3 separate regions of the Homo sapiens genome follow, and regions 1 and 2 are each linked to region 3. Evidence: fine-mapped expression QTL. A gene starts in region 3. Each other region holds a variant in brackets. All regions are shown on one strand. Distances are from middle to middle. Region 1 overlaps MPPED2 (metallophosphoesterase domain containing 2). Region 2 overlaps MPPED2 (metallophosphoesterase domain containing 2). Region 3 holds the start of MPPED2 (metallophosphoesterase domain containing 2).

What was found.
Region 1: its variant is fine-mapped to the expression of MPPED2 in esophagus muscle (GTEx, PIP above 0.99).
Region 2: its variant is fine-mapped to the expression of MPPED2 in adrenal gland (GTEx, PIP above 0.99).

Annotation. Positions count from the first base shown.
Region 1 is chr11:30,425,655-30,429,897 of GRCh38, reverse strand. The region is part of intron 4 of MPPED2 (metallophosphoesterase domain containing 2); the gene reads left to right. Among named protein-coding and RNA genes, the nearest start is that of ARL14EP, 100 kb to the right of the region's middle. The variant C/T (reference allele first, on the strand shown) is at 2,119.
Region 2 is chr11:30,547,312-30,551,554 of GRCh38, reverse strand. The region is part of intron 2 of MPPED2 (metallophosphoesterase domain containing 2); the gene reads left to right. Among named protein-coding and RNA genes, the nearest start is that of MPPED2-AS1, 35 kb to the left of the region's middle. RefSeq lists an enhancer at 4,091-4,243. The variant G/A (reference allele first, on the strand shown) is at 1,755.
Region 3 is chr11:30,584,477-30,588,719 of GRCh38, reverse strand. MPPED2 (metallophosphoesterase domain containing 2) reads left to right here and starts at 2,367. Exons shown (of 7, transcript NM_001584.3): 1 at 2,367-2,678. All of the region lies in intron 1 of MPPED2-AS1 (MPPED2 antisense RNA 1), which reads right to left. RefSeq lists a silencer at 2,413-2,462.

The sequences.
Region 1 (4,243 bases), 160 kb after region 3:
GACACACACAAGCAAGTTATAATGCAGAGCATGACAAATTCCAGAAATGAGGATTAAACAAAGGGCTGAGGGGATTGGGGAAAGCTTCTTGGGGAAAATCTAATTATGAATTGAGCCTTGAGGGCTCAGTGAAATTTTAATGGGCAGAGATATGGGAGAACAGTTTTGCCTGTGATGATCTTGTTATCCCAACCAGATGGCAGGTTGGTGAAGAGTGGGGCATTGCCTCACATTGCATTTAGATCTCCCCAGAGCGCCCTGCCAGAGTTTTGCAGTAGAAGGTGCTCAATAATGTTTGTTGAGCCCAATTAATAATATATGGTTGGCTGGCACACAGTGAGGGAGACACCGGGTCTGTGTGCTTGCTTTAACCTCTGAATTGAAGGGCAGTCTAAGCTTTTTACTCATTCCTCTGATTGTGTGTACTGCCAGTTTGCAGTCACAGTTTTCTCACTTTACTAAATCGGTCTGGACTGAAACTAGTCGTTTAGAGCCAAAATGGTAGATAAATGGGGGCTAACACTTTAACTTACATCTGACCTCCTTGTCACTTATTCCAATTCCCCCGAGCTTTCAAACAGCACAAACAGGCCACAGGGACAAGAAATGACATGGGAATTAGAAGACACTTATCAGAAGGTGCTTTCCTTTTATTTGCAACTCACACATATAGGCCTTTGTTTGACAATCTTGCTAGAGCCTTAGGAATTTTTGTCTTCATTCCACAGGTAAGGAGACAGGAATTCAGAGAGGGTACTTATTCAAGGTTATATAGCAAGTAAATTGGAAAAGTCATGACTAGAACTTCTCTTTTCTATCTCCCAAGTGAACGTCTTCTTTTTATTCGCAGTTGGCCCACCCATATCAAATGTCATCTTCCATTGCTTTGTGACAGATCTACTCAATTCTTTGGTATCCACATCCTACATCTGAAAAGTAGAGAAAAGGTAAACTTGGAGGTCATATGAAGTATGGAGAAGATAAGTTAGGGAACAAAAACCAAAGGGTTGGTGATATTAATATCTATAATGATATTAACATTCATAATGATGATGATAAGAGTCACCATTTAATTTTTAATCTATATAGGCAGGCTGTCTGCTAAATGTATTACATATATTATCACATTTAATCTGCACAACATACGTGTATGGTTGCTATTTTTATCTCCGTTTTATAGATGAGAAAACTGAGATCAAACAGATGAACTTGTCCAAGGTCATATTGCTAAGTAGAAAGCAGCTGGAATTTGAATCCAGACCTAACTTCTAACCCTCTTAACTTAATCATTGCACTACAAAGTTCTGGTTCATGCCAACTTAGCTTAGATGACCTTAGACAAGTCGCTACAACTTCTATTTATTTTTTATTTTTAGAGACAGCCAAGGCTGGAGTGCAGTGGTGTATCAGAGCTCACTGCATCTTCAAACTCCTGGGCTCAAGGGATCCTCCCACCTCAGCCTCTCAAGTAGCTGGGACTACAATCATGAGCCACCATGCCTGGCCCCCAAAATCCTATTTATGTAGACTGTTTTTCCCAAAATTAATACTTTGCTCACCTCTTGGTAAACTGATAAATGTGAGAATTATTTGTAAGCAGCAAAGTGGTATACAGATATATAATGTTGTGTGCATTTAAACTGAAATTTCTCAGTCAGATGAGAGATATATACCAGCAACAGAGTGATGTCTGGCACTAAGCAGGTGCTCAATAATGTGGCTTATATTCATTCCATGAATGAATTTAAGACTTCCTTTGCTGAAGATGCTTTTTTATTGCCACATATGGAAATGGGTGGTAAAGAGAAAGAAGGCAGGCCGTATGTCAGCTTCCTGAGCAAAAGTCCCCACACCCACTAATTTCCCTACCCCCTTAATATTCTAGGGCATTAATGGGATGTAGCTAGGGAAGAAACCACCTTAGAAAAAGTAGAGTCGAAGTAGATGTTGAATTCTCCAAATTCTTCCATCCATGCTCCACTTGCATTTAGCCATCTGGAGAGTTTTACATTGAATAATTTTTCTTCCAAATGATATATAGTCATTATAGAAAAAGTTAAATAAAAAAAGAAATAGAAAGGGAAAAAAATTCACATCACCCATAATCTTTCCCCTCTC[C/T]CTTCACCCCCAGAGATAACCTAACCATTAGGCATGTCCGTCTGTTTCTTTTTCTTCAAAGCATTTTTTACATGTTTGAATTCATACTGATACACGAAAGGTAATACTTTACTTTTCCACTGACCATCAAGGAATTTTCTCATGAACTTACAAACTCTTCATGAACATTCATTCTTAATTCAGCTGACAAATACACATCTTCTCTGTGCCAGGTGATGGGGACACAGTAGTGAGCCAGACTCATTGAGTTTCCAATTGACCTTATGTTTAATGGCTGTATGGTATTTTATTGTCCACTTATCAATTGTCCCCTTTGGGTCTATTTTGCAGGTAGCAGGCTTTCTTGCTAGTAAAATGCTCCCCAACTGTATATCCCCTTGATAATGCCCTAGAATATTAAATAGCATACAAAAGAAACCAGTATTAGCAACATAAATGTGTGACAACACACACACTCATTGTAAATGAAATCAAACGTAATAAAATTGTGAATTCTCCTGTATTTGGGGGCAGAGATTTCATCAGTTCCTACTTGTTTATTAACATCAATTCTTGAGAGTTCGCTATGTAACAAGACAAAATCCAGCTACTCCCGAACCTACCTTTCCTCTTTTTCTTATTTTGTTGGGAAATCTAAGTTAGAAAAACAATCTACCTGCCTGGTTGCCGTGACATGTCTAAAGGGTAGGATGGGGAAGAGGAGGCACAGGTATTCTCTGTGAGTTTCCTGAGTACTTGGCAGTCTTCCTACCTCCTCCCCTGTCCTGTTCGTCCTGTGCTCTGGAGCCAGCCAGGCATGTGACACACGCCACCCTTGCAGGCTCAGTCTCTGGTAGGATGTGGGTTTTTGTGTGTTGTGGTCCTGGTTTCAGCTGCAGGGCCTTATTATGGAATGTATAGGAGGAAACGGAAGGACCTCCCTCCCGCTCACACCAGTCCTGTCACAGATGCCCCAGGTCACCTCCTGGCCTCAGGGCCTGTCTGCATTTGGAACTGCTGGATTAATTTTCACATCATTCTGATGTTCCCCAAGCTCCTCTGAAATTAGGTTATTTAAAAAAGAAGGCCAAAGTTTAAAGACTTCTGTCCAGGGCACTGCTACCTATGAACTGGCTGGCTATGGATTTGTTCTGGAAACTGTATTCAATTTCATTTTCTCAGCACCTGCCATGCTAGAGCCTGGCTCATTATAGGCATCCAGGTGATGTCTGTTGAATGAGTGTATACCCTGGGAGGTACCTTACTGAGCCCATCCTCACTGGGCTTTCAATCCAGTAACTGTGCACTTCACAAAGAAAGGGACTGGGACTTATTATCCGGGTCTCCCTGTGGTCAAGCTTAGTGCCTGGCACCTACTGAGCATTCAGAAACCTTCTTAGATAAAAAAAATGAATTCTGCATACCCACACAATGGCATATCATTCAGCTGTAAAAAGGAATGAATTTCTAACACATGCTACAGTATGGAAGAACCTTGACAACATTATGCAGGGTGAAATAAGCCAGACACAAAAGGACTATTACTATCTGATTCCACTTACATGAAGTACCTAGAATCGTTGAATTCATAGAGACAAAGTATAATAGTGGTTACTAGGGACTGGGGGAGAAGGAATGGAGGAGTTAGTGTTAAATGTGTATAGACCTTCTATTTAGGATGATGACAAGAATTTGGAGATGGATAGTGGTGGTGAAAGTAATCGGAAGTAATGGCAAAAACCGCAGTTACTTTTGCACCAACCTAATACTTACTGCTACTGAATTATAGCTTAAAAGTGGTTAAAATGGTAAATTTTGTGTTATGTATATTTTACCACAATAAAAAGACTGCCATGAAAAAAGGAAAAGAGAAGACAAATATCCCTTTTCTTTACGTCTACTTCTCTCCATCTGTTAAGCCTCCCTTTTTCTTTCAAACCTGGATGATGGGAACTGTGAGATTCCTCTTTGAAGAATTCTCACTGCTGAGGATTGGACATTAGTGCAGGTCCCACTGGGGGCTGCTAAGTTCACCGCGTTTCCTCTCCTCAGGGTCCCAGGGCTGAGCAGGACCAGCCCTTGTTTTAACTGAAGGCACCCTGGTACCTTGTCCTTTGATTTCTGCAGCAGCAAAACAAAGAGCCAC
Region 2 (4,243 bases), 37 kb after region 3:
GTATCAAAATGGACCAAACTAGAATTCATAAATTTATTAGATATTTTAAAAGGAATTTATTTGAAATCAGGAGAAAACTTACAATTTTTCAACTTAGCATTGAGTTTGTGTAGACAAAAGCATTGGACAGGGAGGGACTATAGGTAAGCTGAGGAATTCTATTCCTCTTATAACAGAGGCCTCATGATTTATAGCATCTCTGACTATGGGGAAATTATGTAACCTTGTAAGTCCAGTATTTCTCATCTGTAAAATGGGATTAATAATACCTACCTTATAGGGTTCTCTCAAGGAATGGATGAGGTAATGTTCATAAAGTGCTTGGCATGGTGCCTAAGCGTGGGAATAGTGTTCATTGATGTTAGTGATTATTTTTATTACTGGGGGTTAGGAAGTATAGAGTGTGGATCCAGTTCTGCTGCTAACATTGGCCATGAACAAGTCACTCAACCCTTCTTGTTCTTAGACTCCAATGGGAATAATTACAATGCCCTTTTTACTGATAAGATGAGAATGAATTGAAATTATGTATGAGTCAACTTTTTGAAAAAGTATGAAAGATTCTACCAATATACATGATAAAGATGGAAGGGAATAGCAGGCAGGTCAGAGGGGCAAAGTAGTTAACTTTCTTTGGGTTTAAGTCCTAACTGGGACTTAAACACAAGTCCAGTTTGCATAGAACAAGTTGAGTGAATTATACTCAATCACTTGTGAGAAAACACTGTAACTCAGAAACCCAGCATTACTGCTACCAAATTTTCCTGATGTTTGGCCTCTCATCATGAAGGGGCCTGAACTGGACCTGGCGGGAGATTTTATTGCATTTTTTCCCCAGGCTGTGCTTTCTGGTTAGTAAAGTGTCCCGGACAGACCTGGCTGAGGTTTTACTCTTTCACTCCGGAATGAGAGGAGAATGGAAATAGCTCATTTCTTCAGCCGTGCAAGCCGTGGAAACATCAAATGTGTGTGTGAACTTGTCCATACCCTTCAGGCCAAGTGCTTTTAAAAATTACCTGCTTCCTAAATTGCCACCAGTGCTCTGGGAAGTTTTGCTGTGGTAAACTCCCATCAAAATTCCTGACTATTCTCACATCCCCTCTGCAAGGCCATAATGGGAGTACTGACGGGCTTTGGCTCTGGAAGCAAACATTTAAGAGTCAGGGCAAACAAAGAAAAATTATATTCTAGTCCTGCTGCAGTCATTGAAATGGGTTCAAGATACTCAGTGTGTTTCCTAGTATAGATGACATGCTACAGCAGGGGTGGGAAAGACACAATGATTTCTTTGGAACCAGGGGCTGATTTGTTGTTGGAGATTATAAATCTTTTCACTGACTGTTTCTCAGGCTACCATTCACCCTAGATTCCTACAGGAATCACATTGCCTCCACGGAACAGCGCCAGCCCCAGTGCTAATCAAATTTAATCTATCAGCGAGGACTGCTTTCCTACAATGGACATTGGGGGGCATTGCCCATTAAAATGTTGAGTCATTAGCACTGTCTTCAAAGCAAATCTGAAGGCTTGATAGGTGCTACTATCTTATTATTATTTTAAAAAAGCAATTGATATGGGAGTGGGAAGAGGGGCTGATTTGAACTTAACATGCCCCCTTGGCCACCCCTCCCCAAAAGATGATTTAAAAACAAGCAGTGAGCCAGAGAATTTTCAAGGCTAACTTTCTCACGTGGAAGAGAAAAATTATTGCAATGCCCTTTAGCTAAGTACACTCACTTCAGCCTTTATCGATG[G/A]CGGCAGTCACGTGTGCACCTCTTCATGAGGAAGAGAGCTTGAAACAATCACAGGGCAGAACCTCCAGAGACTAGAGCTGGGATGAGCTCTAATAGTAGGGCACAGGGAGTACCTGTGAGGTTTTTGTTTTTGTTTTTAGGAGAAGGCTTTTTGAGGAAGTAATCTTCCTGCCCAAAATTGAAAGTTAAATCTTTTCCATCTTATCCATCATTGCTCTTAACAGAGACAGTTGATATTCCTGAGTTATAGGAGACCTGCAAGTCTCTACAGTAGGCAACTTTGTAGAACTCATATGTATAGATAGTGGGCCTTTTACAGTTTAGCATTCACTTGAGCATATGAAGGAATAAAAAGGAGCAAACAGATGGGATTATGCAAACATGGTGCATTAAGAGTTTCTAGTAAACTTTTAGCAAATGTTGACACAGAATTGAGAATTATCTGAAGTTTATTCTCCTGTCCAAAGTATCCAAGAAAGCAATTGATTGGAAATAGAGCAGGGGAAATTTTGATGTGAACCATAACAAGACTAATAAAATGTAGAAATGACATATAACCAGGTACAGAAAGAAAGCAGTTACGTCCAGGATAAGAGCAAGGATGTAATTGGCTTTGTGTGTTATTTTCATGTGTGTATAGGGATGCATATGCGTACACACTGAATGGGAGCTAACTGTTAAAGTATGTTGTATAAAGTTCGATCTGTATAAAATGTGGTTTGTACTTTGAACTCATATTTTTTTGTTGCTTATAAAGTTTAGAATAAAATAACCACTTATTCCTGAAGGGTATTTGAACTGGTGAGTAGTCACAACTGTAGTCATGATGATTTGGTGTCTAGATTTTTATGTAAATTGGTACCTGGATAATGCATTCCTATTTGGCTTTAGTAATCTTCATACAACTGTGAAGTAGAGAGGCACAAGCTTTAACAAATTTAGAAAAATTCAGGTCACCTGACAAACGCAGTGTCCCCCTGGGAATTAACCTCTTTGTAAATTTGGCACTATGACTCACCTTTGTTGATCCTTTCATGACTCTCTCCCTCTTCAATTTAAATTGTTTCTTTTATGTCTAATGACATTACTCCAGTTCTTTGCTTGGTGACCTAACCTTTCAAGTCCCAGGTAAAATGCACCTTCTTTTGTGAAGATCTACCCATTTTTAAATAGAACTAATTTCTTTCATCAATATTTCTCATAGAAGAATCTCAATAATGATGGCTAACACTTACTGAGCATTCGATATGCACTGGGCCCTTTACAAGCAATAGTTACTTAAGCTGGGCATGGTGGCTAACACCTGTAATCCCAGTGCTTTGGGAGACCAAGGTGGGAGAATCACTTGAGGCCAAGAATTGGAGACCAGCCTGGGCAACATAGCAAGTCCCTGTCTGTACAAAAAATCAGAAAATAAAAACAAGCTGGGTGTGGTGGCACATGCCTGTAGTCCCAGCTACTTGGGAGACTGAGGTGGGAGAATCCCTGGAACCCAGGAGTTCAAGGCTGCAGTGAGCTATGATCGCACCTTTACACTCCAGGCTGGGAGAGAGAGAGACCCCGTCAGTTAAGAAAAAAAAAAGATAGTTACTTAATTTTTGTGTTGATAGTCAATCTTATGAGGCAAGTACTATTATTATCCCTAGTTTATAGATGAGGTAAATGAAGCTTTGAGAGGTTTAGTAAACTTGTCCAGAGTGTCATACCCAGGTAGTGGGAAAGCCATGGTCCAAAGCCAGGTCTTGTGGATTCTGTAAGTGACCTCACTGTTTGCTGAAGTGACCTCTTAATCACTTTATTCTTTCTCCATTCTCCCTCCCCAGTATGTACATAGGTATATATAATTTGTGGTCACATTGATTACAGTTTGGTATGTATGCCCTCCCAAATGAAAGTGTGAGGTTCAAGATAGTAAAAATGGCATCTTCGTAACCTCTGCAAAAGAATATTTTTTTTAAAATTGACTCAAATACAGATATGCAAACACCTGTCAGAAAATTTACTTAGGTTGTTAATGAATGAGGGAACCAAGAAAGTTGTTGTAACAGATTTGTAGAACCATGAATTTATATGGAATAAAAAAATGCTGAAATTAATTTGCAAATGGATCAAAAGTGGAGGGGAAGTCGATTGAACCTCCACTGGACATAATTTATTTGCATCTGTAGACAAAAATTATTTGCATTGCTTTTCATTATCTATAAGTTACAAAGTTATACAATACAAAGAACATAGGCTCATGGTTTAGATAGGCCAGAATCCAGATTCTAACTTCCAAGCTTAATGTTTGACCTTAAGTGAAGTTTGGAGAATTCAGAATATCACACACACATAGCCATACACAAACATCACACAGAGATTTTGAGAAGATTAAAGGTAATAATTTAGAAAAAGCCCCTGGCACATAGTAAATACTGCTAAATATTAGGCGTGATTGTTAGTAGTAATAAAGCTTCTATCAGAGCTCTAACATTTAGTTATTGCTTAGT
Region 3 (4,243 bases):
AAAGCTGAAGCTTATAGGATTTAAAATTTGATATAATGAGGTAACATTTCAAAGCTTATATGGGAGATGGGATAGACATGGTTCACATCCAATAATTTTAAATTAAGCTTTTAGTGTAGGTAGCTGTATTTGTAGACAATATGATTTAACAAAATGCAATATGTTCAAATCCACGTAAAGAGAATTATTTGAAAAGTGAGTGTCTTTTTGTTCCTGGTTTATTATTTAAATTCATTTTCATATCTCCAGCTTGCTAGTAGCCTAATGAAAATAAAATTTCATAATCCAAATATAACTTGGTCACTATTGGATAATTGATCTATCAGCAGGTTGACTTCTTCCAGCACTACAAATTACAATTTTAAGCCTTTTTACCTCAATTTTCCCCACTCAGTAAAATGGTATACAAATTTCCATCAACTTTGTAATGGATAACCCACTTGATTTTTTATGGCATTAAGTATCCTGTAAAATGTACCACTAAAGTAGAAAGCATTATTATTTACTGTCTGGGTGCACATATTTAGATTCAGAATCATGTTCAAACTAGTTTGTCTGTTTTGTTTGACTGCAATTTTTTTTAAAGAAGGAAACCACAGAAATTATTTGGCTGGTGATGCTTTTTTTTTTTTGAACTGATTAAATCAGCCCAAATCAGTCTAAAAATTCAAACTATTAAGATATGAGGAATGTAGTACTCAGTCACAGAGTAAAGGAAACAAAACCAAGCATTTCTTCAAAAACGTGATTCTAGTCAGTGTTCGCTGATGGGCTAGAAAACAAAAGAAAACAAAATTTAAAGGTGCCTCTATGCCCCCATCTTTGGCATCCTTTAATGTCAATGTCACTTGTTCTGATTTGTGCTGGGCAAGGAAAGACACTGTCCTTTCCACCCCAGCACATTTGACAAGCACTGACACTCTGGGCATGCTGTAAAATAAAATAAATACATTAGTAAGACCATTTCCCTTTTCATTTCAGCCTAGGCATAAGAGATGGGTTACTTAAAATTCAAGTGCCAGGAAAGCCCATTGTAAAAGGGAAATATTTTCAAGTGAATTCCGTTTGATCTTTTTTTATAGGGGCTCCTACAAGCCTCTCTCCCTTCCTCCCCAGACCCTGGAAACCAATTAGTCTCAGCACAGAGGCCACAGACCAGGTTGCAATGGCTCCTTTTTATTTTTAGGGGGTATAATTTCAGCCAGGATGTCTAGTCAGTTGTCACATAGTATACTTAGCACACTTCTCTCTCACACACATATATATACATTGGATTTCCCTTCAGAGAATGCACAGATCTTTCAGTCTGACTCCTAGAAAGGAATTAGATCTGGTTGCTGTCCCAATCTTTCAGCAATGACAATGGCATAACATCACAGGGCCACCTCATCTTTCACAGACAACCCTGCCAACCAAGTTTTCTAAAAGCCTTCTCTCCCTTGTTTTCTGTCTTCCAGCATTTCAGCGGCATTTCCTTTCCTTGTGTTGTTTGTACAAAATTCTGAAAACCTTTTCTTCCATTTTCCAAAGTAGCAGACAAAACTGGACTAAGTTTGATTTTTAAAATGCTTTTGACATGCTTATCTTTTGGGGAAAATTTTATCCAAAAGACGAAAATGGAAACAATTAGAGTCTTTGCCTCTCCTCACCTTCCTGTCCTGAATCTGCCTTAATTCATGGAGGTAAAAAAAATGATCAGCTGGGTTGGCCTTTTCTTTCTCAGCAACATTGCAGAGAGAAAGAGGTGAGTGTGTGAGTGAGTGAGTGAGCGTGTGTGTGTGTGTGTGTGTCTGTCGTGTTGAAAGGCTTGGGGAAAAAGGAGCACAGCTCTCCCCCAGGAAAGCCTCAGATCAGCAGATGGGAGGGAACCTAGGGTCGCCTTCCTAGGTCTGAGCGAAGTGTCCCAGCCGCTCCCCTTACCCCTGCGGTGAGCCCTGCGTCCTGGAACGGTGCCAGGACTCCTGACAGAGCCTGGCAGGTCGGTGGGTGGCGGGGAGCTGGGTGTTCTCTTTGCAGAAGAACACCATTTGGGAGAAAGCTCCCTTCTTTTCCTGGGGCACCGTAGCCCGCCTTCCTTCCCCTATCATTTTTTACGCAGATCGCACTCATGATGATGAACTTGCAGCTCAGCTTCCTGCCGCCTGCTTGACCCGGGAGCACCAGCAGGCTACCGGGCCTCGCCCTCGGCTCCCTCCTCCTCTCGAAACCCTGGGGCTTCGGGGCACCGGTGGGGGTCCGAGTGGGCAGGGACTGCGGGAGGGGCGTGCAGGGGCGCGGGGTCCCGCCGGGGAGCGCGCACGGAGCGGCGCCTCGGCCGCCCTGCTTCCTGGAGCTGTGCTCCTTTGACCCCAGTGGCAGTCCCTGTCACTGCACCGCTCGCTCTCCCTCCGGCTCGCCGCGCCCTCGCTCCCTCTCCTCGCCCCCTCGCTCGCTCTCTCCCCAGATCGAGGCTGCTCGGGTCCTTTCTCCCCCCGCCTCCCTCTAGCGCCGCGCCCCCTGGCCCCCAGCCCCAGCCTGCGGCGGGACCTCCGGGGTCGAAGGTTCTGGCCCGCTCGCGCCCCTCGCCGCCCCCGCGCGCCCCCAGCGCTCCTCCAGCCGGCTCGGGCCGCTCGGCTATGGATCGCCTGCTCGCCGGGCGCTGAAGGCATCCCCGGGATCCGGAGCGCAGCCCGGGAAAGGTAATCCGCCCCGGGAAGGGAGGCGGAGGGCGGGGGAGGGGGAGGAGGCGGCCGGGAGCCCGGTGCCGAGCACTAGAGGAAGGGAAAAAAATGCACACACAAAGCGGAGCCCGGGTGAGAGGTGCCTTGTCAGAGGCGCGTGCGAGGGGCTCGGAGGCTGCGGACCCGGGCTGCCCCGGTGCCCCTGACATCCGCACGAGCGGGCGCCTCCCGGGCAATTCGGCGCTCGGGGAGGGCTGATTTTCAACCCCTGAGCGAAAGCAAATTCTTTTTTAGGAGGTGTCTTCCCTCCGACTCCCCATCCTGCGCCTCTTCTCTTCTCCACCCCCTCCAGCCATCAGTCCCCCGACCTCTGGGGGTCCCCACCTCTTCGCTCCCTCCTCCGCCAGGATTTCTTAGGAGGAGAGGAGGGGGTATCGGCGAGAAGCTGGGGAAGCCGGGCGGCGGGGATGGGGGTGGGGACGAGGGCTCAGCGAGCTGTTTACTAGAAAGTCCCGGGGTGATGTGTTCGAGCCGCCCCGGCCTAGGCCTGGGTGCATTGTGTTGGCCCGATCCCCGGGCTCCCGCGGCGGCCCGAGGCCAGGTGCAGTGACGAGGGGAAGGCACCGCGCAGCTTTGTGCTCCGGCTGCGCCCCGCGGCCGCCCCCGGGGCCGCCCGCGCGCGCCGCTCTCGCTCGGGGCTCTTTCTCACCCCGTCCCCGCGCCCCAACCTCACTCTCCGCCGCTGCCTGGGTCTCCGCGCTCGCAGCCTGCGGAGCGACCCGGCGACCCAAGCTGGGGTCGAGGCTAGGCGACGGGGGACGAGTACCGAGGAAAAGTAACCGTTGCCGCCGGATTTCTTCTCTACAGAGGCAGGAGTTTCTTTGCTATTTACGTATAACAAGGTTATCTTTGTAAAGCCTTTGAATTCCGGGGTTTTGCGGCCTAGGAGGTGAAGGGGGCATTTTTCTAGAGGCTCAGGAGCCGGTTGGAATCCGTCAGCAAGAAAATAAATTAAGGATGCCCCAGTGAAGTTGATTTATAATAGTACATCACCACCCCCCTCTCACACACACACCCCAAATTAAGTGCAAATGCGGGTCATGAAAAATGTATAATTGATTTGAGATGCTGCAAACAAACACAAACAGGTCGGGGGGGTGGGACAAACAAAAGTTTAAGTGAAAAAAGATGTCAGAAGAGGGGGAGATCCCGTGGCCTCCACACCCCCTTCCAACGCTCGCTGGCTCCCTCCCTTCCTTTCTCCGCCGTTCCAGGGAAGGAACCTGGCAGCGCCCAGGCGTAGAGCAGGGAGGAGGCGGCGGCCCCGGGCTCGGGCTCAGCGCTGTGGGTTCGGGGATGCCAACGCGCCCGGGAGGCTGAGGTCGGGGACGTGGGGCTGTGATGCCCGACCGAGGATGGCGTGGTGTCAGAGCCATTGGCCGCCGGTGGTCATCAATCAATCCAGAGCTAGGGAAGAGGGAGAGAAAAAAGATAGGCGTCCAGCGGAGCCCGGGGCCGCCAGCGCTAGCGCCAGCAGTGCCAGCAGGAGCGGCGGCCGAGGAGGTGACGGAGGTGGCAACGGG